3 separate regions of the Homo sapiens genome follow, and all the other regions are linked to region 3. The links come from fine-mapping of genetic effects on gene expression. A gene starts in region 3. Each other region holds a variant in brackets. All regions are shown on one strand. Distances are between the middles of the regions. Region 1 overlaps LOC105378464 (a long non-coding RNA gene). Region 2 overlaps SORCS3 (sortilin related VPS10 domain containing receptor 3). Region 3 holds the start of SORCS3 (sortilin related VPS10 domain containing receptor 3).

Region 1 (10,360 bases), 48 kb before region 3:
GGTCAGCTAGAGGTCATGGGTTGTTATTGTTGTCTTTTCCTCCATCCTCAGCTCACAGGTTCCCAGCAGGGCTCATCTGGGTGAGTGCTGAGCTTAGGGGACCTGGGAGAGCCCAGTAACTAGATTAAGGCCACTTTGGCTGCAAGTGACAAAACTCTTCTCAAATTGGCTTAAGCAACAAATAGGAAATGTTTAAGGACACAACGGGTATCTTACAGAGTCTGGGGATGGGAAGGAGGTTGAGCCTTAGCCCACCTGGAAGCAGGGGCTGCCACGGATGTGTGCCTCCTGGATGTGTCTGGGGTGGGCTGTGGCTGCTAGTGGCTCCTGGGATGGGGCTGAGCCTAGTGGGGAGAGGGGGAAGATGAGGAGGAGGCGGATTCCATCCAGCTCTGGTCTTCCCTTCCTGCCTCATCTGGGGCAAGACCTCACTTTCTCCTGCAGTGGGTGGTGTAAGGGTTCCATTTGAAATAATGGTTCTGTGGTGAAGAAAGAAATTGGAAATAACTAGATAATTTCTTGGCCTCTTCACAAATTCTATAGCTTTGAGGATTACAACCACTTGATAGTCACAAGTGACAGGAGCGGTGCTTGAAGAATAAGCCATTTCTTCACTCTGTGATCATTTACCCAACAAAGGGGGAGCAGCTGAGGGTCGCAAGGGTAACAGATGAGCAAGGTACAGCAATGGCTGTGAAGGTGCCGCCTGTCTGGTTGCTATTCTGGAGGCTGGGTGTTCCAGGATGTGGTTTTTCACTCAAGGTCTCTGTACTTTCCTTTTATCTTTCTATTAAATTTTTTTTGATAGAATCTTTATATATGCGCGCGCGCGCGCGCGCGCGCGCACACACACACACACACACACACACACACACACACATATACATTGATGCATTTATTTCAACGATTTGTTCGACACATACTTATTGAGTGCCTACCAGGGGTTCCAGGCTCTGCGGATAGAGCAGTGAACAAAACAGAATTGGTGCGCTGTCCTCCTGGAACTAACTGGTTGGGATGGGGTGTGATTGCTTCTGCTTGATGCTGGTATTCCCACTTTCTCATCAGCAGTAAAGTGCCATGGCCATTTGACTCCTCAACAAGCTTAGCCCTGATCTTTAGCAGGCTTGTCAGTCCTTTAAATTAGTTTGGAAGGTTTCAAGTAGTGATTCTTAAAGTGTGTTCTGGAAACTCACATGGGTTATTTTTATCATAAAGCTAAAACACTTGTCTTTTTAAAATCTCTGTCATGAGTGAACAGTGGAGTTATCCAAAGTCTACACAATGTGTGAAATCAAAACAGATTGAATGGAGAAGCAGACATATGACTCCAATTGACTTCTATTAAGCCAGCCAATATAGAGATTTGCAAATAAGCAAAACAATGCCGCTCAATTCACTAGTTTTTTAAATTTTTGAAAATATAGTTATTTTTTAAAAAAACACCTAATTTATATTAACATGTTACACGTTTATGTTAAGGTACAATACATTTATTGTTTTTAATGAATTAGTGTCTTTTTTAAATGCTTTGGTTTTAATTTCAAATATGGTAAATATCAATAGATATAATCCACACAAAATTCTTTGAGGTTCTTAATTTTTAAGAGTGTAAAGGGGGCTGGGCACAGTAGCTCATGGCTGTGATCCCAGCACTTTGGGAGGCCAAGGCAGGTGGATCACCTGAGGTCAGGAGTTTGAAACTAGCCTGGCCAACATGGTGAAACACCGTCTCTACTAAAAAACCAAAAATTAGCCAGTCGTGATGGTGGGTGCCTGTAATCCCAGCTACTCAGGAGGCTGAGGCAGGAGGATCACTTGAAACCAGGAGATGGAGGTTGCAGTGAGATTGCGCCACTGCACTCCAGCTTGGGCAACACAGCCAGATTATGTCTCAAAAAAACAAGAGTGTAAAGGGGTCTTGAGACCAAAAACTTTGACAACTGCTAATTTAGAGGCAAAGGGTATTGCATGTGATGGGAGTCAGCATTCTCAGTAGCAATGAAATTGATTTAAAGCATATTAGAGAAAGAATTGTAAGGAGGCTCTAGAACCAGTCTCAGAAAGCTACCAGGATCTAGGAAAACTAGGAGGTCAGTTGCGGCCAATGTCACAGAACCAGGCTGGTGAGGACATCACTGTGTACTGCTGAGCGCAGGACACCATAGTTTCTCCTCGCTAACCCTGGAGGCACCGCCACCCTGGAAACTAGAGGCTGCTCCTGCCGCCAAACCCTCTGCCATTCCTGATTCTTTTTGTTCCCGGCTCATGTGTGAGGTCTGGGATGGATACATCTCACTGTGGGCCTAGGTCGTGGTCCAAGGCCTGGCAGCCACAGAGCCGAGGGAAGTGAGTGTGACTGTGTGGGCTCCCATAGAGGGAGGTGGGCCCAATCTCTCACCCAGAGGCAGGTGTAGAAAGTGATGGGCAGCCGGACAAAGTTCCCTTCAACCTGGTGTGTTTCAGAGAATGTCCTGGGGCTCTGTTTGCCCTCTCTAACCACATCCCTTGAGAAATCAGGGGAGCTAGAGATGGAGGGCAGTCAGTGTTACTGCTTCTGGCCCAGTCTCCTGTGTACTTTTGTTTCTAAGCCTCGGAAGCTTAGGGATCTTTTGTGGCTGGATGATGGCAAGGTGCATGGAATATAGAAAGAGGTCAGGAGAGTCTCTTATACTCCTGGGTCTGCCTCCTTCCTCAGTGAGGGGGAGGATGGAACTTAAGAGTATAGTGCAGCAATTAAGAGCTCAGTTTCTGGAATTAGACAGTTTAGCGGTCCCAATCTTGGAGGTGCCTTCTGCCTCCCTGGAGACAGCTGTTTCTGGACAGGGGCCAGCGGGCCATGTCAGGGAGACATGAGAGAGGGAGGAGGGAGACAGGCGGCAGCAGGAGCAGAGCTGGCTGGACAGGGCTTTGTCCACTTGATAAAGCTGGCATGTTCCTTCCAGCTGTCCCTGTGATGCTCGCTTATGTCTGGTTTTCTCATGACTCAGAGCCACAGGGCAGGCCTCTCCAGCAGTAGGGAGAATTTGGATTTGGATATGGTTTGAGAAGAAATGAGGTAGAAGACTGTCTTCCTTTGCTGCCACCCACCACAACTCCCCAGGCCAGTGCTGGATCCCTTCTGGTGATCAGTGAGCCTGGGGACAGCCTGCCAGTTAGAGCTGGTGACCACTTTGGCTGGAGGTCTGCAGGAGTGTACAGGACCCAAGAGCCAGAGAATCATTCCTTTCTCCTAGGAAGAGGCAATGAGAAGCCAGAGAGAAAAATCATGGACAACAGCATGGGCAATGGAATCCTGGGACCGAACGGCTCCTGACAAGAGTAAGTGAGGCTTTGAGCTCCTGGAGGGCAGGGACAATACTCATCTCTGACTCATTTCCCTGGCATCTGATGGACTGCCTCTCAGGATGGGTAACCACAGCTTGCAGGGAGCCCAGTCAGGTTCTGGCTCCCCCTTCCCTTCCCAGTACCCTCTTCCTCACCCAGTGTGCTCCTGCTAACACCTGGACCTCCGATCCGCAAGAAATTGCCTCCTAAACAAGTTCCTATGAAGGTGTCAGGCTGAATGTGCTCCTGTATTAAGGCTACTTGAATTTTAAAGGAAACAATGAAGAGGGCATTGCTTTATCCAAATTGGCAATTCTCTAATGCATGTTTTTACTTGTTTCCCCAAGAGTGTAACAGGTGTTTTCTAAAATTCTTTTATTAAATTCTTTGTCAAGTGAATTTGGGAAATCTTGGATGTTATAGCTCCTCCTCAAAGATTTAAAATGCACAATGTTGGCCAAGCATGGTGGCTCATGCCTGTAATCCCAGCACTTTGGGAGGCTGAAGCAGGCAGATCACTTGAAGTCAGGAGTTCGAGACAATCCTGGCCAACATGGAGAAACCCTGTCTCTACTAAAAATACAAAAACTAGCTGGATGTGGTAGATGCCTGTAGTCCCACCTACTTGGGAGGCTGAAGCATGAGAATCGCTTGAACCTGGGAGGTGGAGGTTGCAGTGAGCCAATCTCATGCCACTGCACTCCAGCCTGGGCAATAGAGTGAGACTCTGTCTCAAAATAAATATAAATGAATAATTAAATAAATAAAATGCGTAATGTCATATTAAAGGCTCTAGGAGGTCCTGTGAGTTTTAACCTGTTGGATTTTTAAGAAATAAGTCTTATTGAGGTATGGTTTACATACAATAAAACTTGCTCATTTTAATGGTGCAGTCTAATCAGTTTTGATGTACACACTCAGGTAACCAACATGACAGTTGAGGTCTAGGACATTTCTATCAGCTCAAAAACTCCCTCATGACCCTTCATAGTCAATTCTCTTCCTCAACGTGCAACCCCTGGCAGCCACTGATCTGTGTCTTCTATAACTAGAGTTGAGCCTTTTCTAGAATTTCACAACAATTGGAGTCATCCAGTAAGTTGTCTTTTGTGTCTCTGGTTTCTTTCCT[T/C]AGCATGATGTTTTCTGAGGTTGAGCTGTGTTGTGTTTATCAATAGTTTCTTCCTTTTTATTGCCAAGTAGTATTTCACTGCACGGATGTGTCACTGTGAATCCACTCCCCAAGTCTGAGTGGTTTCCAGTTTTAGGTGATCAAGAATAAAACCACTATGAGTATTTGTGTACAAGTGCTTGTGTGGCTGTGTATTTTCATTTCCCTTGGGTAAACAACTATGAGTGGAATTGTTTAATTTTATTTGATCAAGGGACACTTAAACTGAACATCTGTTAATGAATATTCTGAAAAACACAATCTGGAAAACATGGCTAAAATATTGGGCCTGTCAATACCATCCAGGCCGCCACCCTCACTGTCCTTGGGAAAATGCCAAGCTTATGGTGCCAGGCCCCTTGCTCTGCAGACATTTGAAAGGGGGAATGGGGTGGCCATGGCCTTATCAGACAGAGCTCAGCCGGAGAGGGGACTCAGGAGCTGGAGCCAGTGAGTGGAGTTGGCCTCAGAACTGTGGTATCTTTTCTTATCTAATAGTAAAATCCCAGATGCTAGTTGGCCCTGGTGCCCCATGGTGGAGAAGCAGTGAGTCTGGTCTGGAGCCCAGGTCCCAGATCTCCTTCTCATTGGTTTTAAGTAAAGAGGGAAAAGAGGCTCTGTAGCTGCTTTTCACAAATGTCGTCATTCTCATCAGCAGATGGTAGAGGAGAGAGGCTAATTCAGAACTCCTGTAGCATATAAAACAAAAACCAGCCAAAGGAACCCACAAGGTAAATGATATCATTATAAGGGAAGTAAAGGAAACAGCATCTGTCCCTGCTGTGGCAGGAACCAGAGCTAGGATGCTGGAGAGGTGCCTGCTCCCTGGGCCTTGCAGGGAAGTGGTTCTCACTCAGTGGCAAGGGGAGCTGACGGCTCAGCAAATGCTCTATTAATCCCACCTGAAGAGAAGAACAGTTCGGGAGGGCTGGGCTAGGTCCCGATTTTAAATGTTTAATGCACATCTTGATCTTCCTTTTATTTGTTGTTGGACTGTCTGGACAGACTCTTGTGATTTTCCAGGTTTGTTGATCAATTAAAGTTGGAGAAGACACATGGTTTATCCCACCGCATGCCTTCTGATAGGTCATAGTATGTTGAAACATCCAGGGATAAGTTCATCTGATTGTGGGCTTAGCTGATATAGGGGCTGAGGGTGTGGAAGGTACCTGCCTTTTGCAGCAGCCTGAACAAAGAATTTAAAAACTCCGTTCCTTGCCTTTAGCTCCACTGGGCTCTCAGACCCCACTGGAGAAGAACAGGGAAGAGACAGCTCTTTTCTGCAGCCACCTTCCTAGGCATTCTGTGGTTTTGCTGAAAGAGCAAAGGCTTCTGGAAACAGACCCATGTTCCCGATCCTGGCTCTGTCACTGACGAGCTAAGGCCAGGGCCCTCTCTTATGTCTTAGTCTCCTTGTCTGTAAAATGAGGGCATGTACCCACTTCAGAGGTGTTAGGAGGAGTATATACACATGATGCCTTATGTGGGTACAGTAGTGCCTAGCACAGTATTAGCTGTAGAATAAATGGGAATTCATAACCCCTCATTTCTAGATCAACCCCTGTAAGTCCACCCAAGAACACTGTGTGCCTGAACGAAAGGCAGGTAGGAAGAAGGCAGGGAGGAGAGTGCTTGGGTAAAAAGACACTGTGGTGAAGCATTCCTCTACTGGAGCCCCTTTCTCAGAATCCTAGACTCCTAAAACACCAGGATTGGAAGTTTCTTTGGAGGTCTTTTATTCAACTGTTCACTTCATGCAGGAGATGACTTTCCAAAGTCCTTGCCAAATGTCATCCAATTTTCCCTGGAACATCTTCAAAATAGTGTAGTGGGTGCAGAAATAGTCTCCACCACTTCCTAACCCTAACCCTGGGCTAGTTCCTTAGCCTCTCCCTGTCTCAGTTCCCTTAACTGTAAAGTGAGAGCAATAATAATAGGATTGCTCTAAGGACGAGTTAATACCTGTGCCTAAAGTGGTCTTTGGAAAGCGCAACCTCTCAAAAAATACCAACTTTAAACACGATTATTATTGCTATAACCTTTTCAGGGTTGAGGACAAAGCTATGGCTGGTTACACCCCAAAACCTCCCTGGCACCTCAGGGCAGCTTTGGTCCAGAAAAGGAAGCTCTCTCTGTCTTCATGAAATTTCCACTTAGGCATCCATTGATTATCCTTCTGTTCAGATTTTAATTTTTTTTTGGAGAGCCATCATCTCTTCCCTGGGTCTCTTCCTCTTTCATACTTAGTGCTTTATACCCAAGAGAATATTATTACATCGAACATGAAATTGTGGTTTTGGAGGTCAAAAACTGTCAGGTGTTTCATACGATTCAACCTGCACAGAAGCAGTGTCATCTTTGGGTCCCTGGAGTCACAATCACCACAGTTACTTTGGGTACCTGATTCCGGGTCCCTAAAGAAGATCTGAGAGGAGTGCCTAGAAATCTGCATTTCTAACAAGGTCTCCACTGACACAGTAGAAAGAACACTGGCCTGGGAACAGGAAACCCAAGTTTGAGGACCAGTCCTGTTTCTAGCTGGCCACATAACCTTGGGAAAGTCACTTCAGTCTCTAGGTCTCTGCTCTCTTTTATCACCACAATGGGAATTGCAAGAAAGTGATCTTTAAGATTACCCCCAAGCCTGAACTTATATGGTTTATAAAACACTTACTGGGTGCCTATTAGGAACTGAAGGTCACAAAAGATATAGTTCAAGCCTGCAAGGAGATTACTCTTGTTGGGAAGATTGAAACCAGATGAAGAGGCAGAGCAAAACAATGTGGAAGATAATACAGTACGGTGGCATCAGTGATATCACCGTGGAGAAAACGGTTACCTGCAAATGTGTATTACTTCTATAGAAGCAGTGACGTGAGGCCTCTGTGGGTAGCGTAAGCTTCCTGAGGGAAAGGCCAAATTTGAGCAGCATCTTAGGTTGAGAGAAGGAAGAGTCAGCTTATCTTCTTTTCTCTTTGATAGTCCCAGCACTGGCTCCTAAAATTTCAGCAGTCTTTAAGGTACTACCTATGTTCATTTGCTCATTCATTCATTCATTCATTATCTACCTATTCATGAATATATATTGGGTGCTTACATATGGTGAACAAGATCAAATTAGTCCCTACTCTTAGAGAGCTTAACATTGTAATGAAGGATATGACAAATATTAAACAGATTAAAAAAGTGGTGTAATGCTATGAAGAGAATTAAAGCAGGATGAAATAGTAACTGTGGTTTCTTCGGTTTGGGGGTAATGGTCAGAAAAGATCTCTCAGAAGACTGAGAAGCTATGACCTGAAAGTCAAGAAGAAGCCAAACAGGGCACGATCAGGGAAAGAATGCTTCAGGTAGAGGAAACTGCCAGTGCTGAGGATCTACAGTGGGAATTTACAGGAATGAAAGAAACGCAGGAGAAGAGGGGAGAAAGGCAGGAGAGGGTACAAAATATATCTGGTACAGTAGGCAGGGGTAAGATTGTGAAACGCTTCATAAACCAGAATAAGGATTTTATATTTTATGCTTAATTCTACATGCAATAGGGAACCGTTGAATGGCTCTAAGAAGAGGAACAACATGATTTGACTTAGGTTTTTGAGGGATCTCTCCAGCTACAGATTGAAGAATGATTGTAAAGAGGGTGAGTGGAAACAGGAGGCCTGGTGAGTATGTTATTGCAGAGTGGTCCGATGAGAGACAGTGATGGAGCAGACTAGTGAGGGAGCAGGTGGGGAACAGGGCACAGGTGTTTAATCACTCAGGGTAGAGAGGGTAGGGGAGAGGCACACAAGGAGATAAGGGAAGGGCTCAATATTTAAAGCACAGTTTCTTAAACAGTTTTTCCTGCTCTAGTGGGAAAATCATGCACTCGCAAGAACAGTGTATCAATTCAATGGTGATTCTAAATTGGGGTTCCCCCGGAAGATGTGACAGCATATTGTTGCTGGAGGAATGTAGGGGGCATGCCCTACGCCTGCACCCCAGCAATTGCCACATGGTTTATGTTGTGACTGTGACACAAGTCCTAATTGTGAGAGAGGACCCAGGGTACTGCTCAAAATGATAGGAAACATTGACAAATCCTAGCCCAGTTTGACTTTTTGAAAGCTTGTTCCTTGCTATTTTGACCCCCAAGTACATTTTGATTTCAGGTCTGTAAATAAAATTATTTGTATTAGAATAATAAAAACATTAATTTTTTTGTTAAGATGATTTTATAGGGTAAATTCTAATAAGTAAATTTAATTCTTTGATCATTTTTTATCTGATGCACCTAAAAATTTCCAGCCGAAGCTGGACCTGGTGGCTCATGCCTGCAATCTCAGCACTTTGGGAGGCTGAGATGGGAGAATCTCTTGAGGCCAGGAGTTTGAGACCAGCCTGGGAAACATATTGAGACCCCATGACTACAAAAAGTTTTAAAAATTAGCTGGGTACAGTGGCATTAGCCTGTAGTCCCAGCTACTCAGAAGGCTGAGGTAGAAGGATTGCTTGAGCCCAGAAGTTGGAGGCTACAGTGAGCTATGATTGTGCCACTGCACTCCAGCTTGGGTGACAGAACAAGACCCTGTCTCTTAAAAAAAATTCAATCATTTTGGTTTTCATTTCCATTTTCATTATGAGAAATTCTATTCCATATAACCAGTTTTTTTTGGAAGAGTTTGAAAGGATTAGTTCCTCAAATTTTTGGTAGAATTCAGTCATCACTCAGGTTGTTTTTTTTTCCATAATGATGTTTTTAAGTTCAATTTCCTTAGGCTTGATTTCGCAAATTTAAATTTTTTTCAGACATATGATTCTTTACTAAGTTTTAATGATAATGAATATGTTTCAGGTTCATCCTCTCAACTCTCTATTTGTGTCCAGTCAAAATTCGCAATGCCAACACAATAGTTTCTAGTCCCATGATCCACTGAGAAAAACATGGATTCTTTAAAAGGTAAAATACATATTCAACATGATGCTGCACTCTCTTCCCCTCCCCCCTCAAAGGCTGACACTACTAATTCACCGCTGGCACTTCCTATGGATTGAGAGACAGCTGTAGCTGATATTGAGCTTAGAATCAGATGGTTCAGACATCGAACCATTTCTGCATCAGCTGGTAAACAGCTGTGGCCTGGAGGGCTCCTTTTGGACCTCCCTATGCTGACCCAGCAACTAAAGAGTTAACACCCAAACCAGCAGGGCACCTGGAAGATCCCAGAAGGGTTGGGGTGAGGGTGAGGGTTGGGCAGGGCAGGGTTGGCCAGCACTGCAGCTGGCCATTTGTGCTGATTGGTGGATTGTTAACCTTTTTGAATATCACTCTGGGGAACAGTTTAAGAATCTTTCTCAGTACAAGGCTCCAGGAAGACATTACTGAATTGATCAAAGTTGGTACTTTAGATGAAACCTATTTATCACCCCTGGATTAAGGTCTTATCTCCCTTAGGGATATTTGGTTATAAACAGTGTGCTCTGAAGGTTAAAGAACCTCCAGGGCTCCAGGAACTGGACTTCTACTGCTGTACCTTCAAGTACCCTCCTTGGACAGAACTGGGGGCTGAGGCCAAATCACAGTTCCTGATCTGGATTGGCCTGACCTTTGAACATGAGATAGGGCAATCAATGGGGACGGGCACTAAAATGAACTCTAAGACCCTCCCCTCATTGCCAAGGCTTCTAGCACAACAAGAATGGCTTGTTCAGGCCTGCATTCAGTCTTGACATTCTGCAGTGTAGAAGCCAGGGGCATCAGTGGTTTCTCTGCTACATGTTTTCATTTTTGTAGAAATCACGTTGCCTATAGATAGCAAAACTAGCTTGGTATAAAAACAGCATGACTTGTGCCCTTAAAAATATTAAGTAAAAATAATTTGCCAG
Region 2 (10,360 bases), 340 kb after region 3:
CTTTTTATTCCATCCACTTCTTTCTGTTACCACTTCTAAATATCTTTTGATTCCATCCTCTTCTTTCTGTTACCACCACTACTCAAATATAAGTTTTGTTTGTCATCTGAACGATTGCTAGAGTCTCTTCCAGTATGTTAATACTACAACCTGAAAAAATATTTCCCAAATATAATGATTGTGTGCCTTTGCTTAAACCCTTCTCACATTTCCTCTTTGTTCACAAACTAAAGACCACAGTCCCCAGTAGATATTACCAGCCCCTGCCTGATCTGGTCCCTCCTTCTCTCTCCTGGTTCACTGTTATCACTTCCCCTTGAATCTTTCAGTTGCTTGCCCTACCTCTGCCCCTTGCTCCCTTCCCTGTGCCTGGAATTCTCTTCTTTAATGTAAGTCTCATCATCGTCAGATCTCAGATCCAGCATCACTTCCTCAGGACACCTTCCGTAAACTCCCTGATGAAATCAAATCCCTTTTGATGTTCTTTTTCGTAGCACTATGTATCCCTCATTCAGAACACTTGTCACAAATGAGATTTTGTGTTGATTTTTGGGGTCATCTGCATTCCTCACTAGATTACAAGCTCTATCTTGTAATCAGTCCTCAGTGTCTATCCGTTAGATGAATGAATTAGTGGATGAATGCTTAAATTCTGTAGTTCTCTATATTTGATCAACTTATACTTAAGAAAAGACATTTTAGATGATTTCCTCTTTGTATTTCCTGACATCTCCAGAATCGTACTACAGTGCTTGATGCCAAACTATTATGTAATAATGTTGTGGAATCAATCAGTGAAAGGAAACAGATAATTCTGAGCACTGTCTTACATAGAGATATCCACAGAACAACCTTGGTTGAAATAGCTTCTTCACTCTGCTCTCTTAAATACTGAAACAGTTGCTCCTCAGTGTATATTTGAATATGTGATTGTGAATTTGTGTTTGTGTGTGTGTGTGTGTGCATGCGATCATGTGATGTCAGCACCTTTAAACAATAATTTCAACATAACCTTTCTATGTCTCGTTAACCAAGCCTCATGGTGGGTGCCAGGTGCTTAATGCCATCCCCTAAGGACACCCACATGACATTTGCAGAGGAAAAGCCACTGCAAATATATTTCTTTCATGGCATCAAGTGGATATTGTATGAAAGACTTAGCCAAATGTCAGATAGTCTGTGACTTTAGAGGCTTAGTATAGCCAGAAATTTTGAAACAGTATTGAAAAAAGTAAATTATTCAGATGTCATTAAATGGTTGGATGGTAATTTATTTATAAGAAGCTCAGACCTCTTAAAGCTTATTTTTATTTCTATAGAGGCAAGCTGGGTTAGAGGCAACAGACTACTCATACCAAGAGGTTGATAAACCAAATGCAATATGTCTCCTGTGTATCTAAGAGTATCCTTTGCCTCCATCTCCACAGCACTGAGAACATCTGGGGCATTGCTCATGAAGTACCCTTATGGATATAATGCATTCAAAATACTTTCAGACTTGGTGGCTGCTCTTTCACTTGCTAAAAATATTTGAAAATGTGGCAGTGGGTGTTGATGGATTTTTCTAATCACACTGCACATTTCTAGATATATTATTCCTTAGGTACTCTTTCTTGTTGACATCTTTTGCGTAAAGTGGCTGAATGTTCTTCAGGCCCATAAAGTTTCTAACCAGTGCTTGGCCGTTCTTCTTTTAAATAAATGATGTGTGAAAGCAGATGATGCCCCTGGCAACACTTGCAGAGATGGCATAAAACACCTAGCCCCAGTCATCCAGGTTGCAGAAGAGTTTTTCTTTATTTTGGGGGTAATTTAGTAGTTTAGAGTCAAGGAGAGTGATGCTGTGCAGCAGCAAATGAAAATGCAAGTGTAGTTGAGATTGATATACAAATGTGTTATTTCAGACTAGAGCCTTCTCTGATGTGCATGCATGAAGGCAGCTGTTTCCTTCTAGAGAAAATGAAAAGTGCTAGTATTAAGGTAACTGCAGCATCAAAGGGAGATGTTTGTGGTGAGGAGTGAATCGATGTTTCCATTATTGTGCCTTTGATGAAATGCACTAGAAATTTCTTTAGAGTTGGTAAGGCTATCTCGTTATGTTGTATGTATTACAAAAGACCTAATTGAATGATATTTTAAAAGGACAGTATCCAATTGCTTTACTTTCCCAAATGCTACCCCAAAGCTACAGAAGACTTGCCAGTAGATCTCACTCAGTAAAGGCACTGCTGGAGAATTAAAGAAATACCTTGTGGATAAAACAAAATTGCATCTAGAAATCGAGAGATGCACATCACACTCTGCTAGTGATATGTGGCTGTTGGGTTGTGAGTTAACTGGGAAACATGTCTACCTGATACCGGCCAAGGCCTGGGTGTGGGGAAGATCTTCTGAGTCCTCCAAAGCTGCAAAGGGGTGGGGGGCAGATGTACCTTCCATTTGACCTTGCTGGAGGGTCATACCTCTGCAATCCTGATGCACCCCAGTCTACTAAAGTCCTTTCTGATTTCTGGTCAGCTTAATTTGGGCATTTGATCAATTCCTTCTCTTCTGACCATCTTATGAGCTTCCCCACTCCTTCTACCTCCCATGCCAGCTCCTTCTCTGGCCTATAGATTCTCCTGCCATCTTGCATTTTAATTTAAAAGGACTCAGTAAAGACAAGAGATTCATTCTTGGGTATCTTTGTAGATATTTTATAAGAATTCCTGAAGTTTAAAAAAGCAGTGGAAGTAATAGGTTATGGTTGACCAAATTGGAAATGACAAAAGAAAAGCTACTCTCCTCCCTCCATCTTAGAACAAAAGCTCTATAACTTCTTTTGAGGGCTGTGTCTTTGTCAGTTATTTAAGTGGTAGGATTCTCTTTTGTTTCCATCAGGCTATTTCCTCACTGATGACTGAAACAGCTTACACTGTGATGTGTTTAGATTAGCTGGAGGGCTCAATAATCTTATTAAAACTGAGACTTTTGGAAAGATTTTGAGATAGGTTTTGAAGACAGTGCAATCCTAGAAATATAGCTGCTGTTCTCATTGCTGTACAGAGCTGAATGTTTAAACATTCCTCATTTTGACAAGAGACTGCAGTTTTTAAAAAAATGGGCACATGCTCATGTATTCACAGATGCATACATCCTGGCACAGGGGGCCTTCCGTAGGAGATGGAGAGCTGAAAATAGCTATTTTTTTTCTGCGTGAGAGGTAGGATTGCAAAGCTCTCTAATACCGTTTATATTCTTGGCAAAATGAAACTTTAACAGATACAGCTGGGTTTGGAGATCAGAGATGAGCTCAATGGGATTGCAGACTCCATTGTTTTCAGACACTTCTGGGCCACAGTGGTCTAGAATTGCCCATAATTTTGATGTAAAAAGCACTTTCTGAAATGCTAGCACACATAATGAAGGGTTGCTGTTATAGTATTAATAGTTGGGGAGTGGGCATGCAGCTAAGGATTTTTGTTGATCACCTCCTATCCGACAAGATCAATAGTAGCTGACGGATTGACAGACTGGTTAAGCAGCTGATGCAGTGTTAGGCGTGGTAGCTGGCAACACAGGACCCAGTACAGAGGAGGTGCTTGTCCCACGCAGGCTTTGCCAATTGGACTGTAACTGGGGCAGGTGCTGGAGTGTATCTGGATTTCAGAGGGCCTAAAAATTCAAAAGGAAATGTAAACTTGACTTCTGGAATGCTGGATCCAAAGAAACTGTGACTTTCATTTATATTCTCATTTAAAACCCTCAGATTAAAAATGTAATTTTGTTGAGATCCTCCAGGATTAGTAGGCGATGATAAGTTTCTCAGTAGCTATTGGCAGAAACAGGCTTCCTGTCTCCTCACCTGGTGGAGATAAAGCTTCTGGGGATTAACTAGGGATGACCATGGCTTTGAAGCTTTTCCTCTGAGGAATATGAGTGGGACTGAAGGGCACTTTTCACTTAAAGAAAAACATTGCATTTTTATTAGGTCCTTTTCCATTCTTATAAAAATGATTTATATATAATTTAAGAGAAATATCTCTAGCTCTGCTCACCTACAGCAAGTGGCCACTGCTCTTACAGGTGTCTCATTAGTACAATGGAGGTGTGCTATCTTCATCACCATAGAAACACCAGGAGGTAGAGCAACCACCTAATGGGTGTGGCCCATAATCAGAGATACCCTGTGATATTTGAATGTTACCACTGATCTATTTGAGCAGAGTTCTGAATGACAGAACTGGTTTAATGTTAGCTATGAACTTGTATTCAGTGAGAGAAGGGCAGTAAGGATCTCCATTCATGTCAGTGTTGTTTTCAAGAACATTCATTCGAATGAACAACCTTTAGCAAAATGTGGCTCTGGTGGCCTGTGTCACCCCAAGCATGCTTTTTCTTTTCTTTTTTAATTTTTTGAAATGGAGTCTTGCTCTGTTACCCATGCTGGAGTAAAGTGATGCAATATTGGTTCACTGCAACCTCCATCTCCTCGATTCAAGCGATTCTTGGGTTCAAGCCTCCTGAGTAGCTGGGATTACAGGCACCTGCCACCAGACCCGGCTAATTTTTATATTTTTATGTAGAGATGAGGTTTTGCCATGTTAGTCAGGCTGGTCTCAAGCTCTTGACCTCAGGTGATCTGCCCTCCTCGGCCTCCCAAAATATTTGAATTTACAGGTGTGAACCATGCACCGCACCCAGCCCCAAGCATGCTTTTTCTATATGATGTCCTAGACTTTCTGGTCTCTTCTTCACCTTCTTGGTGTCCATTTTAGTAACCTGATACATTTATTAGAGGGAAAATCACATTTGCTGAAATGGAAGATACGGCATGTATATGCTTTAAGAAGGGTACTCAGGCAGGCAACAGTACCTTTCCCAAAGCAATTATGTTCCCATGATAGAAATTCAGCCATGGCAGTGTTTTAGTTAAGATAGGTGGCTCCAGCCACAGGTGCTCCAGGAGGTAGAGCAATGCAGCCTCAGGTTTCCCTGTGTACTTTCATCTGCT[G/T]CCTCTATGAGCTGACCTTGTCTTTATGTACGTGCTGTTTTTTTCTGTTAATAACACTGCCCTAGTGCTGACTACTTTGCTTGAATCCAGATCCTAGATTTCTCGTTTTCCAGTTGGACTCAGGAATTCTTCTGCTTGTCCCTTCCTTTGCAAGTCCCTATGACCTTAAGCTCTTGTCTGCCCGACCAGGCCAGGCCACTTATGCTCCCTCCATTCTCTGCCTATATCTTGACCACTCACTGTGGTATGAAGGCACCTGGCCTTTTAAACTCAGGGTCATTCTTTCAATTTTAAAAATGGGATTTTAACATACATACCGAAAAGCATACATCTCATGAGTCTGATGAATTTTCATTAACTGAATACACTCATGAAACCAGCAACCTGATCAAGAAACACCACTGGCATCTGAGAATTACTTGCGTGCTTTTTCAGCCACTACCTTCCACCCTCAGTGGAGCCACTCTCCGTCAAGGTCATTTTTTATTTCATGCAGACAAACTAGGAAAGCAACAGATAGAAAATAAGTTTTCTCAAAAGAAATGTTAGAAGGTAGCAAGGGAGGTAAACAATAGAGAAGAAGAAATACTTTAAATGTTAATATTAGAGAACTAGACTAAACCAAATACAAGAATTTATTGACATTCAGTAATCCCAGTTAATCAAGAAAATTCATAAGGACAATTTGAAAAAATTTTCATTTAAAATTAACAGGTTTCAGTTTTTAAAATGTATCACTTTCTGTACGATAATTATAATACCCAGTGTCGGGTATTATATTTTGAAATAGTATTGATGGGTGTGCAAATGAATTTTCCTTCCTGGAAAATATCTTGGCAATATATATCAGAAAACATACACATATTCATAACTTTAACCCAATGGTTCAGTTCAGAAGCTCTAGGCATAACAATGCTTATCAAAGTCATTTATAATGGGAAAAACTAGGAAGAAACTTACTGCCTAACATTAAGGGACTTTAAATTATGGTATATACATTTACTGGGGTATTATGCAACCATTAAAATAGTGACCATAATATCCATGTAGCGACATAGGTATATATTAATACCTATTAAATACATACAGGCGTATCTTGGAGATATTGTGGGTTCAGTTCCAGGCCACTAAAATGAAGCAAATATCACAATATAGCAAGTCATGTGAACTTTTTGGTTTCCCCATGCGTATAAAAGTTATTTTTATGCTATACTGTAGTCTATTAAGTGTATAATTGCATTACGTCTAAAAAATGTACATATCTCAACTTAAAAATACCTTATTGCTAAAAAATGCTAATGATCATCTGAGCCTTAAGCAAATTATAATCTTTTTGCTGCTGGAGGATCTTACCTTGTTATAGATGACTCCTAAGGGTGGTGGTTGCTGAAGACTGGGGTGGCTGTGGTGATTTCTTAAAATGAGGTAACAGTGAAGTTTGCTGCACTGACAACTCTTCGTTTCAGGAAAGATTTTTCTGTAACATGCAATGCTGTTTGACAGTTTTTTACCCACAGTATAACTTCTTTCAAAATTGGAGTCAATCCTCTCCAGCCCTGCAACCCTGATAAATCTTGCTTTATCAACTACGTTTATGGAATATTTAAAATTCTTTCTTGTCATTTCAACAATGTTTACAGCATCTTTACTAAGAGTAGATTCCATCTCAAGAAACCACTTTCTTGGCTCATCTGTAAGTAGCAACTCCTTATCTGTTCAAGTTTTATCATGATATTGCAGCAATTTAGTCACTTCTTCAGGCTCCACTTATAATTCTACTATTCTTGCTATTTCTACTGTGTCTGCAGTTACTTCCCCCACTGAAGTCTTGAACCTCTCAAAGTCATCCATGAGAGTTGGAATCAACTTCTTTCAAGCTCCTGTTCATGTTGATATTTTGATCTCCTCCCATGAATGTTCTTAAAGGCATCTAGAATGATGAATGCTTTCCAGGAGGTTTTCAATTTACTTTGCCCAGATCCATCAGAGAAATCACTGTCTATGGCAGCTATAGTCTTATGAAATGTATTTCTTAAAATAATAAGACTTGAAAGTTGAAATTTCTATTTGATCCACGGTCTGCACAGTGGATATTGTGTTAACAGTCATGAAAATAACAATCTATTTGTAAATCTCCATCAGAGCTCTTGAGTGACCAGGTGCATTGTTAATAAGCAGTAATAGTTTGGGAGGAATCTTTTTTTCTTAGTAGTAGGTCTCAACAGTGGGCTTAAAATATTCAGTAAACTATACTTAAACAGATGTGCTGTCATGCAGGCTTTGCTGGTCCATTTATAGAGCACAGGCAGAGGAGATTTAGCATAATTTTTAAGGGCCCTAGGATTTTTCAAATCATAAGTGAGCATTGACTTCAACTTAAAGTCGTCAGCAGCGTTAGCCTGGGTGAGTCTTCCGTCCTTTGAAGCTTTGAAGCCAGGCATTGACTTCTCCTCTCTAGCTGTGAAAGTCCTAGATGACACTGTCTTCCAATAGAAGGCTGCTCATTGAAAATCTTGTTTTGTGTATCCGCCATCATCCATGATCTTAGCTAGATCTTCTGGATAACTTGCTGCAACTTCTCCATCAGCACTTGCTGCTTTACCTTTCACTTGTATGTTATGGAGATGGCTTATTTCCTTCAACCTCATGAACCAGCTTCTGCTACTTCAAACTTTTCTTCTGTAGCTTCTTCACCTCTCTCAGCCTTCATAGAATTGAAGAGAGGGCTTTGTTCCAGATTAGGCTTTAGCTTAATGGAATGTTGTGGGTGATTTGATCTTGTATCTAGACCACTAAAACTTTCTTTATATCAGCAATAAGGCTGTTTAATTTTCTTATCATTTGTGTGTTCACTGGAGTAGGACTTGTAATTTCCTTCAAAAACTTTTCCTTTGCATTCACAATGTGGCTGTTTGGCGCAAGAGACTTCACTCTCAGCCTCCTGGCTTTCAACGTGCCTTCCTTACTGAGCTTAATCATCCCTAGCTTTTGATTTAAAGTGAGAAACATGCAACTCTTTCACATGAACACTTAGAAGCCATTGTAGGGCTATAAATTGGCCTGATTTGAATGTTGTTATGTCTTAGGGAATAGGGGTGCCTGAAGACAGGGAGAGAGATAGGAGAATTGTCAGTAGATGGAGCATTAGGACACACATATTTATGGATTAAGTGAACCATTTTCTACAGGTGTAATTTGTGGTGCACCTATACAAAACAATTACAATGATAACATCAAAGAACACTGATCACAGATCATCATAACAGATATAATAATAATGAAAAAGTTTGCAATGTTGTGAGAATTCCAAAAATATGGTGTAGAAACACAAAGTAGGCACATACTCTTGGAAAAATGGTGCTGATAGACTTGCTTGATGTAGTTGCCACAAACTTTAAATTTGTAAAAACCCCAATATCTGTGAAGCACAATGAAATGATGTATGCCTGTACGCATTACATATTACATATATAAATATATACAACTGCGTACATAATATATATTAAGACATACTTTTAAATACAAGTATGCAAAAAATAAGGTAAGGTAAAGAAAGGAAGGAATGAAGGACGGAACGAAAGAAGGAAGGAATGAATGTAGGAAGGGAGAAAAAAGGAATGAGGGAGAAAAATTATTTTAAAGAATGGAAGGAAATATTCCCAAATACTAGCTAGGTCCGTTAAGATGATGGAACTATGTTTGTGGGGCTTTTTTTTGCATACCATTTCTTTTCCAAATTTTTTATTATTTCATTACATTGCTTTCATAATTAAAAATTCTTTAAGTAATATACCATGACTAGTTTATGTTTATCCTAGTTATAAGGCAGTGCTCTTAAAAAATGCTTTAGATGTGAATGGGGCTGATTTAGTAAAACCCTTTCAAATCATTATTTAATCCCTTTTCAAGAAGGAGTATGTTGTAGAAGAAAATTTCCCTGAACTAAAATATGCAGCCTGAGATTTCTCTTTTCTTCAGCGTTTTTTTCACTGTCGTCCTTTTAGAACTCTGAAATTCTAGGAATATTTTTTTTTCTCCTAACAAAAAGTGTACTCTTGTTGGATGTAACCTCAATCTATATTATTTACAACTCAGCAACAAATGTAGGGTTTATTATTCAGAACGCACCCACCATAGGTAGATGTTAAGGAAGTGATTTATTCTGGTAGTTTTTCAGATGAATTTTCCGGCTCCATCCCAAAATTGAATTAGTATTTGCTTATTTGCTTTGACAGCTGTAATGGAAATAAATGATTCTGGAGCCAAGGGGTGTAGACAATTCTAATGCATTGAGCTTTGAGCCTAGGAACTCTTACATGCCCCATGTTACTTTACTCAGAGTTGGACGTATAGCTGCTCCTTGGAAATAGAGATACATGTCCTGAAGTACCACCTTCCCATGTGTGGCACTGACAAATTCTCTCATATATGTGATTATGTTGAATTTTCATAAGCAGCTGCCAGGTAGATATTATTTCCAAGATACAGAGGAGCATATGACTCTTGAAGGGCATTCTAACTTGTTCAAGGTCACACAGCCAGTGAGGGGACTGCCTGCTCTCTATCCTAGGCCTGGCTGAGGTACAGCCACCACACCCCACTCTTCCTGGTTGATAGGTGGGCTTTCCCTTGCCTTAAGACAGAACCGCATATGGGCCACTTTTACGCTGAACCCCAGCTCCAGAGAGCACAATAGAGTAAGACAACAAAATCAGCCATGTGGAAACCAAACCTTCAAATGAATCCAGTGGTTCTTATGGCATATTTCTCAGCTGGTGGCAGTTTCTGGAGTGGGACTTTGAGGGTAGAAGCCATCAGACTGCTTGCTGATGATAAGACATAGGACTAATTAATTCTGCCTCAAGCAAAAAATAAACAACAACAAGGCAGTTGTGTTTTAAGGGGATTTTGTCCAGTTTTGTTCGCTTTTCCCATTAATTTATTCAAATCTTTGAGTTAATATATAGATTAAACCAAGGTGTTTGTCATTTAAATAGGTAATACTATGATCTCAAATTTTTAAAGGAAGCTTTTGGAGACAACATCTTTAATATGGTAATGAAGAGAGAAGTTGAAATCATGTAACTTCATTTACAAATCATGAATATGTATTATGCTTTAAATGAAAAGAAGGACTAAAACAGATATAGTGTTTGTTCAATTTGCTAAAGAGAAGACAATTTGTCAAGATTCTTTCCCCAAAACTCAAGCAATATGCAAATGTAGGAAAATCAGACCCCCGTGTTAATTCCATGGCATGATGAATATTTTTATAATCCTAATTAGTACCAGTCATTTAGTCTAGCAATTTCCCCCAATCTAGCCAATTTGAAATTAAAATAGATGCCTTGATTACAAAACTCATTA
Region 3 (10,360 bases):
TGATTTCAGGTGTCATTCCGCCTGCAGAACCCCTGAGCCTAGCTTTCCAGCCCGCCCAGCAATTTTGGGAGTTACTCAATATCATTTTCATAAGATAATTTTCTTTTTTTTCTTTTTCTTTTTTTTTTGACACAGAGTCTCACTCTGTCACCCAGGCTGTAGTGCAGTAGTGTGATCTTGGCTCACTGCAGCCTCTGCCTCCTGGGTTCAAGCAATTCTCCTGCCTCACCCTCCTGAGTAGCTGGGATTACAGGTGCTCACCACAACATCTGGCTAATTTTTTGTATTTTTAGTAGAGACTGGGTTTCGCCATGTTGGCCAGGCTGGTCTGGAACTCCTGACCTCAAGTGATCTGCCTGCCTTGACCTTCCAAAGTGCTGGGATTACAGGCATAAGCCATCATGCCCGGCTGCTTTTCATAAGATAATTTTCTCCAAATTTGTGTTGGAGAATTGTTTTCTGTGGCTTGCAATAGGAACATTGATACCATGAAATAAGGTGTGGTGGAAAGTAGTATCAATCAAGTCCTAGAGCTTTTGCCTCTTTAGAAAGTTGACATGCTAAAAAGAACAGGTGGTTAGTAGCTGCAGTGGAGGTATTATTATTTACATTCATCTGTTTTGTTTTTTATTGCACATTTATTGAGGGTCATCGCTGTGCCAGGCATTGGGCCAGGTGCTAAGGATACAGTATTGAGCAAAACAGACACTTCATGGACACACAGTGACAGGAAGTCCTAATTGCAGTGATCATCTGGCTGGCTTTGTCTGCATTTCAGGTTTTGTTTCATAATCATTTGCCTCCTTAGAAATTCAGAGTTACAATGTAGACTGTTGTTTGATGTTAATCAATTAATTAATTTCCTATTTAGTTCTAAAAAGAATGTGAAGTGGCTTATCAAAAATACGCAGATATAGTAAGATCAAAGAGTATCAAACAATAAAAACAGCATTTAGTAAAAAGGGAGCAGAGGATAAAAATCTTGACTGAAGACCATTAGAACAAGTTAACTCGGTACTCAGCGTGATTATTGAGACAAGAGGAAGACAAAGTGAGAAGACAGAGCCAGTTAAAAGAGCCTTTAAGAAAGGATGTCAGTTTCACAGGAGAAATACACGTTTTAAGAGAAATTTGCTTTTAGGTCCTCATGTAAGAGGTGCTGAACATTTTATAAAATACGGAAATAGGGCTGGGCATGGTGGCTCACGCCTGTAATCCCAGCACTTTGGGAGGCCGAGGGGGTCGGATTATCTGAGATCAGGAGTTTGAGACCAGCCTGGCCAACATGGGGAAATCCCGCCTTTACTAAAAAAAAACAAAAAACAAAAAAACAAAAATTAGCTGGGCATAGTGGCGTGTGCCTGTAATCCCAGCTGCCTCAGGAGTCTGAGGCAGGAGAATCAATTGAACCTGGGAGGCAGAAGTTGCAGTAAGCCGAGATCGCACCACTGCACTCCAGCGTGGGCGACAGAGCAAGACTCCATCTCAAAAAAAAAAAAAAAAAAAAAAGAAAAAGAAAAGAAATCGGCATCATTTGAATGCTTCCCTATCTGTGCCTGCTGTGAGTGCTGATGGCAAAATATCTATTAGATTATTGAGGGTCTGGAAGGGTAAGGGTGTGTGTGTGTGTGTGTGTGTGTGTGTGTGTGTGTATGTGTCTGTGTGTATTTGTGATGTCAGGGAGAAGAAGCACAGTTTCCCAAAGTGTTATTTCACTGTGATGGTAAAAAACAAGAAACAAAAAACAAAACAAAACAAAAAACCGGAAAGAAGACTTATTTGGGTGACATTTAGTGTAATCTCATGGATAACTTACAGTATACAGTTTGCTTTCTCCAGTTGTTTTTAACAGGGACAGAAGCCCTGGTGAGAAAATGCATTCCCAGTGGGCATTTGTTGCCGACCCTATGGGGACTGTGTGAGAGCTAATCCTCACTCTCAACCTGCCTTTCCCAGCTGAAGTAGGTATTATGTCAGCAAGGGAAATGGAAGCCCCCTTTAACCTTTGTCCTTTCTTTTAAATTCCAAATTGATATGGGACAGCTCCTATCTTATAGGAAGACAAAGAATTTGATGATGATGACATGATGATGGTAATAATAATGATATAATAACAAGTACTATGAGGCTGTGGAGGCAAGCTCCATGGAAGAGGATTCTTCCATGAAGAAGGGTTCTTACCATGAAGCCCCTTCCATGTTGAATACTGTGGCAGAGGACACATTCCAGGCTTAAGGAATACAGTAAGAAAGTTCATGGAGGTGGGGCAAGTACATGGAGCTTTGGATACCATTCTAAGAAGTTTGGATTTTATAAAAATGGTAGGTCATTGAAAAATTTTGAGGAGGGCAATTCATGATATAATCTTCCTTATGTTTTAAGAGGCTATTTCTGTCAACAGTGTGGAGCTGTGTTGTTTAAAACAGTAGCCACTAGTCACATGTGGTTATGAAATGTGGTAGTGAAAAAATGTGGGTGGTCTGAACGGAAATGTGCTGTAAGTATAAAATACACACTGGATTTTGAAGACTTGGTACAAAAATATGTAAAAATACATCAATAATTTTTATGTTGATTACAAATTGAAACTATTTTTGGTATCTTCAGTTCAATAAAAATTAAAGTTAATTTCATTGGTTCCTTTTTATTTCAATAAAGCTACTAGAAAGTTTAAAATTTCCTGTGTGGCTTACATTACATTTCTATTTGAAGGTGCCAGTGTGGAGGCTGGCTAGGAGAAGGAAAGAACCGAAGACCAGGAGAAGAGAGGAAACTATTGCAAAACCTTAGGCAAGAGATGTTGAGGGTCAGATATAAGGCAGTGACTCTAGGAATGAACAGGAGAGGAGTGGTAAAAAAAAAAAAAAAGGCTTTTTAAAATAGGACGAGACAAGTTATGGGTGTGGGGATCCAAAAGAGGGAGTCAAGCTTGCAAGTCAAGTGTCTAGTCTAGGTGACTAAGAAGATGTTGGGGTGATGGTTTTAGGTTTTGCTGCATATGGGTTTCAAGGTGAACACATAACACGTATGAAGCAATGAGGAAGTCAGGTGTGAAGCTCAAGAGGGGATGTGGTGAAGTTGTAGATCCAGGAGTCAACACCAGGAAATGGTAGTAGAAGGACAGAAATGGGCCTGATCTCCGGGCTCATTCAGACAAGGAGAAAGGGAAAACAGAATGAGAGCCAAGCACGGAGAATTGGGGAAAATGATGGAGGCTGGGGCTCAGAATTTAAGATGTGGATAAAAGAGGACAAGCTTGACTGAGGCTGGCCAGGGAGGACCCAGAAGATCCTAGTACCATGTAGATCAAAGGAGACCTTTTCAGATGGGACAAGTTTACACATGCGGGAAGAAGAGGTTGTTGAGTGAGGCTGTCAGGCGTGTTGGGGTAGGCCTTTGACTGAGTCGCCTAAAAGCAGATGTCAAATTGCAAAAAGTCCAGGAGTGAGGAAGAGGATACTGTGGGTTCAGGTGAGAACTACTGGGAGAAGTTTGGGCACTAGAGAAGGCTAATGGGGACTCGGAAGCAGGGGGTTGGAGGCAGGGGGCTGGGGGTGGGGGCAGGGGCAGCTCAGGGCTGAGGGCAAGGATTTTCAGGCAAAGGGTGAAGGAGGGAGAGGCTGCAGGTGGAAGAAGACTGTAATTGATGGGAGCAAGGCCAAGAAAACGAACTGGTGCAGGAGGCATGTGAAAATGTCACACTTGCGGGAGTCTTTCCTTTTTTGTTTGTTTTCAAACAAAAGCTTTTAAGCTACATCTCCTCAAGCCCATCCCAAGGATCCAACTCTGCCCGGGTTCCATCTGGTAGGGCCTTCTTCAGACAGGAGAGACAGAAGGAGGCCCCTCTCAGAGCGTCTGCCTCTTTTGCACCCGACTGCTCCTGCTCAGAGGCCGCGGGAAGCTGCGGGGACTGGATGGTGCACCTCCCCAGTGCGCATAGGACTTGGGAGACCACACTCCTCCGGGCTGTGTGAGCCTCGGGTCCGCCCAGATCTCTTATACTGTGGCACCTCCGCCCAGAGCCTGAAGAGAAGAGCAGCACCGCGTCCCTCCCGAACCCCGAGCTTCGGCTCGGGCTGCAGCGCCGGGCCTCCTCCGGCAGGGGCGCTGGGAACTCGCGGATGGCCGGCTCTCGTCCAGCGCCCGATCCCGCGCCCACCTGGGCCTGCGGCGCTGGAACTTTTCTTAGGAATACCCGCTACTCCCTGTCTTTGGAAACCCACAGATGCCAGGACCCGCACCATTCTGGGCCGGACGTTGTCGCTGGCTTGGTTCTTTGGCCCAGCCTCCCCCGCTGCTAATTGCCATTTTGGCACCGGGTGGAAAGGCAAGTTCAAGAGGGCGGGGGCTCTCGGGAATCGCTGGATGTCTTCTTCCTTGGCCAGCTTAGATTCTCAGTCGCCTCTTCTGCCTCCTCCATCCCTCTTGGCTCTTACCTGGCGCCCTTTCGCCTCCTCTTCTATCTCCCTCTTCCTTTTGCACCATTCTCTCGCCCCTTTTCTCCTTCATCTTGTCTTTCCTCTCTCCCCTTTTCCCTCTATTTTCTCCTTCATTCCTTCCTCTCACCTTTCTTTCCTCTCCGCGCATTCCCCTCCCTCTCGCTCCACTTTAACCATCTTCTAGAGAGGAGGAACTCTATCTACTCCCGAAGGGGAGGAGCAGGGCTGGAGGCTGTCTCTCTCTCCCTAAGCCTCCTCCCTCCTGCCTCCTCCTTTCTTAATAGCTCCTCCTCTAGCTCCTCTAGTCTCAGACTTTTCAACCCCTAGAATCCCAGGGGCTTCTCGGAGGCGGCGAGCTACACCACATGTCCTGGGGCCTGTAAACCGCAGCTCGAGGTCGTCTGTGGGTTTAGCTCATTTCCCTTCAGCCCACCTGAAGTCTCCTTCTTCCTACGGTCACGAAGGATCTCAGCTGCACCAAGCGCGCAGGCTACACTCCTGCAGTAGCGGATTGGGGACCAGATAAGCCCACGCGGCTCCCGCCTGAGTACCCTCTTAACTGGCGGCCGACACTTTGAAACAATTGAGTCCGTTCAGAAACGGACTGGGGAGAGTGAGGGCACGACCTCAAAATCCTAGGCAGCAAAATGAGGTCTGGATCCTCCCTGGAAGAACAGACATCTCGACTACTCTCTCGCCCCACCTCTGGCCGGGAGGTCGGGGCAAGGAGAATCCCTCAACCGAGAAGATCTGGCAAGTCCCCGATCCCACCGGGGCCTTCCGCCTCTTTTCCCTCATCCCCTAGGAGGCTTTATCAGGTTCTAACCGCTTGTAGTGGGGGCCGTGGGTGCTCGGGGCGCCAAGAGGAGGGGGCTGCCGAGAGCGGCCTGCCTAGTTCTCAGCATTGCCTCTTTGACCACTCGCAGGCTCCTGGAAATGCAAACACAGCCCGTGCGTGATCCGCACGCGACCAAAAGCCGAGCGCACACCTCCCGCCCCCGCCCCACTTGCCATCGCTCACACTAACGTGCACACATGCTCGTGCAAACGCGCACGCACGGAACCGCGCGCCCCCTCACACCCAGCCGCGCTCCCGGCCCGGCTCAGCCAGGTGCCCCCACGCGGCAGCGCCCGGTCTGCCCGCCGGCCCCCTGCGAACCCCTCGCCTCACGCCCGCCTGCCTGCGCGCACGCACGCGCACGCACGCATTCCCCACGCCCCCGCGCGGGGGCGCAGGCCTTGGGTGGCGGGGTTTGGCCGGGAGCCGGCCGGGCCAGGGAGCGGCGAGCAGAGTCCAGGGTGCATCCCGCGCTTGGCTTCCGTGCGCAGCCTCCCCGCGCGGAGGCACCTGGCTCCCTCTCGGCTCTAGAACGCGAACAGTTGGCGTTGAGCACACAACTCCTCCTCCTTCTCCCCCGAGACCCCTGTACCCTCCCCGCGCGCCATCTCCCGCCCCTCATAACAGGCCCGAAGAGTAAACCCCCAAACGCGTCCAGAAGCGGCTCCCAACTCTTCGCCGGGAGCACGTTGGAGGCTGGATTTCGGAGAGACTCGGGATTGGGGTCTATTGCCGGCCCCTCCTGGATCCGGCTTGATTTTCATATTTTAAGAAGATTTTCTTATTACCTTTGATTACTCCTTTTTACCAAATTTCTGGAGGAGCTCAGTGGGGAGGATTGGGGGGAATCTGATTTTAAGAAAGAAAGCACCGAAGGGGCAATTATTAATTTTCCTCGGGTTTGGAATCACCCTCTGGACAAGAGAACGGGCGAGCGGGAGCTAGGAGGGAAGAGTGGAGAGGACCGGCGAGGCGCGCCAGCCGGAGCCACCTCCTTCCCGGCCGCCCCCTCCCCACTCCCCCTACACACACACGCTCGCTCGCTCGCCGGCGCGCGCACACCCCCCGCGCCGGACCCGCACCTCGGCGGGCGCCACACACTCGGCAGCCCGAGCCGCGGTAGCCGCAGCGGGATGGAGGCGGCGCGCACGGAGCGCCCCGCAGGCAGGCCGGGGGCGCCGCTTGTCCGGACGGGGCTCCTACTCTTGTCGACGTGGGTCCTGGCCGGCGCCGAGATCACTTGGGACGCGACAGGCGGTCCCGGACGCCCGGCGGCCCCGGCTTCGCGGCCACCGGCGTTGTCTCCACTCTCGCCGCGGGCAGTGGCCAGCCAGTGGCCGGAGGAGCTGGCGTCGGCGCGGAGAGCCGCCGTGCTGGGGCGCCGGGCCGGACCAGAGCTGCTGCCCCAGCAGGGCGGCGGCAGAGGCGGTGAGATGCAGGTGGAAGCCGGAGGGACATCACCGGCAGGCGAGCGGCGGGGCCGGGGCATCCCAGCTCCTGCCAAGCTTGGCGGCGCGAGGAGGAGTCGCCGGGCGCAGCCCCCAATCACCCAGGAACGCGGGGACGCCTGGGCCACTGCTCCGGCCGATGGTTCCAGAGGAAGCCGTCCCCTTGCTAAGGGTTCCCGGGAGGAGGTGAAGGCGCCGCGGGCTGGGGGGTCGGCGGCTGAAGACCTCCGGCTGCCCAGCACCTCCTTCGCGCTGACCGGGGACTCGGCCCACAACCAAGCCATGGTGCACTGGTCGGGACACAACAGCAGCGTGAGTACCCACCCGGCGGCGGGTCCGCCTGTTTCCTGACACCGAAGGGGAATGGGGGGGTGGGTGGGAGCGAGGGACAGATAGTTGCTCGGGGGTCGAGGCGGGGGACGCCTCGACTTTTCGAGATAACAGGTTTGTCCGATTCCCCCCACGCCCCCAACAGGTTAACGGAGTTTGTTGTTAGACGCTGTGTGTGTTTGTTTACTGGAGACCCTAGGCTTCGGCCGCCGGGAGGGGAGTGGAGGAAGGGGCTTCTTAAAGATGAGTGGGGGAGGGATCTGTGCTCACTTTCTCCAATACTTGGCTTGGAGGGTCAGTTTTCCTGTTTGCGGGGTGCTTGAATTCTTGGATGAGAAAAAGGGCTGACTTGGGGCGGGAGCCGCTGAACAGACCGATTCCTGCGGCTGCCGGGCTCCCCCTACCCCCACCCCACCCCCACCCCCCCTCCCGTCACGCGAAAGGGAACCCGGAAGGCCATTCGGACTCCCAGCCTCCTGCTCGCCTCGGGGTCGCTGCTATCCGCTCCAGGCGCGCAGTCCTCCAGCCCAAGAGGGAGGCTCGGCCAAGTCGGCCCCCAGCCTTGGCCTTCAGGTAACCCCGGTTCCTCCTTCAAAGTCCAGGGAGCGGCCCTGGAAAGCCGTAGCAGAGGCCGTAAAAAAAAGTTTAAAGCGTGAAGCGAAATTCCACACCCATCCAGCGCTCATGCCACACCGCTCGCCCTCACGCACGCACAGGCACACGGAAGTCGCTCAGCAGAAAACTCTCGACTTCACCATTGCGTCCTGCGCCACAAACGGCTCCCTGAGCGGAGTTGGGTGCCTGAGCTTCCTGCACACCTCTCCACCCGCTTTTCCCCGCCACCGGGTTCTCCTGGACAAGGATGTACCGAGAGGTGGCGTCGTTGAGCCCGGTCTGGCCTACTCCGGCATTCCGAACTGGGCGCCCGACTGAGCATCGCGCCTGCCTGGCAGCTGCAGCGGCCCGCAGCGCGTGCCCGGAGGGGCTCCCCCTACCTCGCCGGCACCCAGCGCTGTGCAGCCAAGCAAAGAAAAGGCGGGGGACAGGTTCCCACCATCTCCCCGACTTCCCTCCCTCCCGCGGTCCCTACTAGAGCCAGATTTGGAAAATCCTTTCCTCTTCTCTGGCTCCATGGTTCAGATCAGAACCTGGCGTTGGGTAGGGTGCACGCTCCAGGCGGAGGATGACGGGTGTCTGTACAAGCAGCCTTGGGGAACTGATTTGATAGGAACTCACCCCGCAACTCCCTGCCGTTTTGTATTTCTCTTCATGACCGGTGTTTGACAAAATTTCTCTGGGAAATTTTTGCCTTATTTTAACAGAGCCTGGGATGTCCAGGATTGGGTATCTAATAAGAGGAAAGCGAGGGGTCCGCAGAAGGTAGTACATAAGCAATACCAAAGTGCAGATTTCTTGGTTTCTAATGATGCACAGCGCGGGCAGCCCAGCCTGGGTAGCCCATGCTGGTCTTGAAGGACCAGTGAAGTCCAGCTTCGCAGCAGCGCGATGGCGGGCTTCATCTGCCTGGGATGAAGACCCCCGTAGCCTCGGGCTGACAGCTCTGGCGAGAGGGGTGGACAATGTGTGCCTTTGCAGGGCTGGGTGATTGAAGACTTCCAAGTCCCTTCCAAGAGGACTTGGATATGTGTGTGCTGGGGGGAGATTCTCTGACCTCAGGGTTGATTCTCTGACAGCAGGGGTTGTGAATCCCAACTTCATTTTAGTTTGATAATTAGGGTGTGTGTGTGTGTGTGTGTGTGTGTGTGTGTGTGTTGGGGTTCTTACTTGGTGAGGAGGATGGATGGATGGATAGGATGTGTGGAAGTAAATATATCCTAGGAAGAGGAGGATGCAATGTCTTTACATCTGTGGCTTCCCTACTGCCACATTAGGACAATATAAATTCACCCTCCCTGAAGAGTTTTTCTGTGTCTCTGCTTTTATTTTAAGGATTATTTTTGAGTATTTACAAAGCCTCTGAAGATGGGACTTTAGAGAAAATGCTTCCTGCAAATAGCAGTTAACTGTGCATGGCCTTCTTTGCTCATCTTCAAAGCAGTTGTGCAGCAGAAGAGGTGAGGGGCAGGTCTGGCCCGTGCTCCCTGGGGAAATGACTCTTCAGTCAAATGACGGCCAAAGGGGCTTGGGGACTGGAGCAGTTGGGCTTGGAGACCTTGGTGACAGCAATGAGATTGGACAATGTATGAACAGCCCACAGGGACTTATTGGTTGTGCTCTTGGCCAGCCTTACTGCCCATGCAAGAGCACCACAGGTGGATGTAGGGCCACGCACTGTCCTCTCTCTCCAATCTGGGGAATAACTGCCTCTTTAGCCCCTAGGCTGGACCTGTCTCTTCTGACCACATTTTGTAGGCAATACGAGAGAGAGATCCTTGATTATCAGGTCTGTGAGCCTGTGTAAAGAAGATGGAGAAGCATACTCACATGGCCCTGTCTTTGAGACTTTAAGGAAATCTCCTGGAGAGTCACTGGGAAACCAGTTTCAGCAACATTGACCCAGCTGGTTTTTCTCCTGTCCCCCTTTCCTGATGGCAGGAAAAGAAGGTGTTGTAAATAAAAGCCAGGGTGAAGAGTGATGGGGATGAGGACACTTTGGGAAGATTCCTTCATCATTGGTTTCAAAGTGGAGGGAGATGTCCGTAAAACAGAGAACATGGGGCCTAGCTCCAGGCTCTTATGACGTGGAAAGAGAATTTTATCTTTTATTCTGGCTTCTGGAGTATTAGACATGTCCTTATTCAGGAGGCCACCAGTTTAATTTTTAACACAATGAGGGTTTCCTTGCTCTTCTTCCAAGTGTCTCTGATGCACCTGATTGCTTGATATGAGTTCCCTTTTGGGGAGCGTTTTCAGTAACCCTATGAAATTGAAAATTGAACTCCATTCTGACTGAGTTTACAGTCAGGGATGCAGGGTGGGACATGAAGGAGAAGGGCCTTCAGCCCACCCCATTGGTCCAGTGTGTGCCCCAGGTGGTTGAGGGTGCAGGAGGAGACCCTTGACCAAGGCTTGGGCTGGGTATTTGCCTTGGTCCCAGGACTGAGAAGAGATGGCTTTGGGGACAAAGGAGAAGGAGTGCAACTGGCTTTGGGCAAAGGAATCAGGAGGGCATGGGATCTGGGTACCACCTCTTGACCATGTTGCCTGCCAGGTGCTCTGGCTGGAAAGTGAGTGGACTTGGCCTTGGACCCTTTACTCTGGAGGAGCGATTTGCTATTTTTTCTCTCCAGTTGCCTCCAGCTGGAATCCTGGTGATTAATGGGTTAGAGAGTGTTTCAAAAACA

What was found. PIP is the estimated chance that this variant, and not a neighbour inherited with it, causes the effect.
Region 1: its variant is fine-mapped to the expression of SORCS3 in whole blood (TOPMed, PIP above 0.99).
Region 2: its variant is fine-mapped to the expression of SORCS3 in whole blood (TOPMed, PIP 0.97).

The regions. Positions count from the first base shown.
Region 1 is chr10:104,586,679-104,597,038 of GRCh38, forward strand. It overlaps LOC105378464 (a long non-coding RNA gene), which reads left to right. Exons shown (of 8, transcript XR_007062285.1): 3 at 8,038-8,157; 4 at 9,330-9,434. Among named protein-coding and RNA genes, the nearest start is that of SORCS3, 49 kb to the right of the region's middle. The variant T/C (reference allele first, on the strand shown) is at 4,457.
Region 2 is chr10:104,978,621-104,988,980 of GRCh38, forward strand. All of the region lies in intron 4 of SORCS3 (sortilin related VPS10 domain containing receptor 3), which reads left to right. Among named protein-coding and RNA genes, the nearest start is that of SORCS3-AS1, 320 kb to the left of the region's middle. The variant G/T (reference allele first, on the strand shown) is at 4,994.
Region 3 is chr10:104,634,918-104,645,277 of GRCh38, forward strand. It overlaps SORCS3 (sortilin related VPS10 domain containing receptor 3), which reads left to right and starts at 6,373. Exons shown (of 27, transcript NM_014978.3): 1 at 6,373-7,037. The coding sequence starts at 6,411.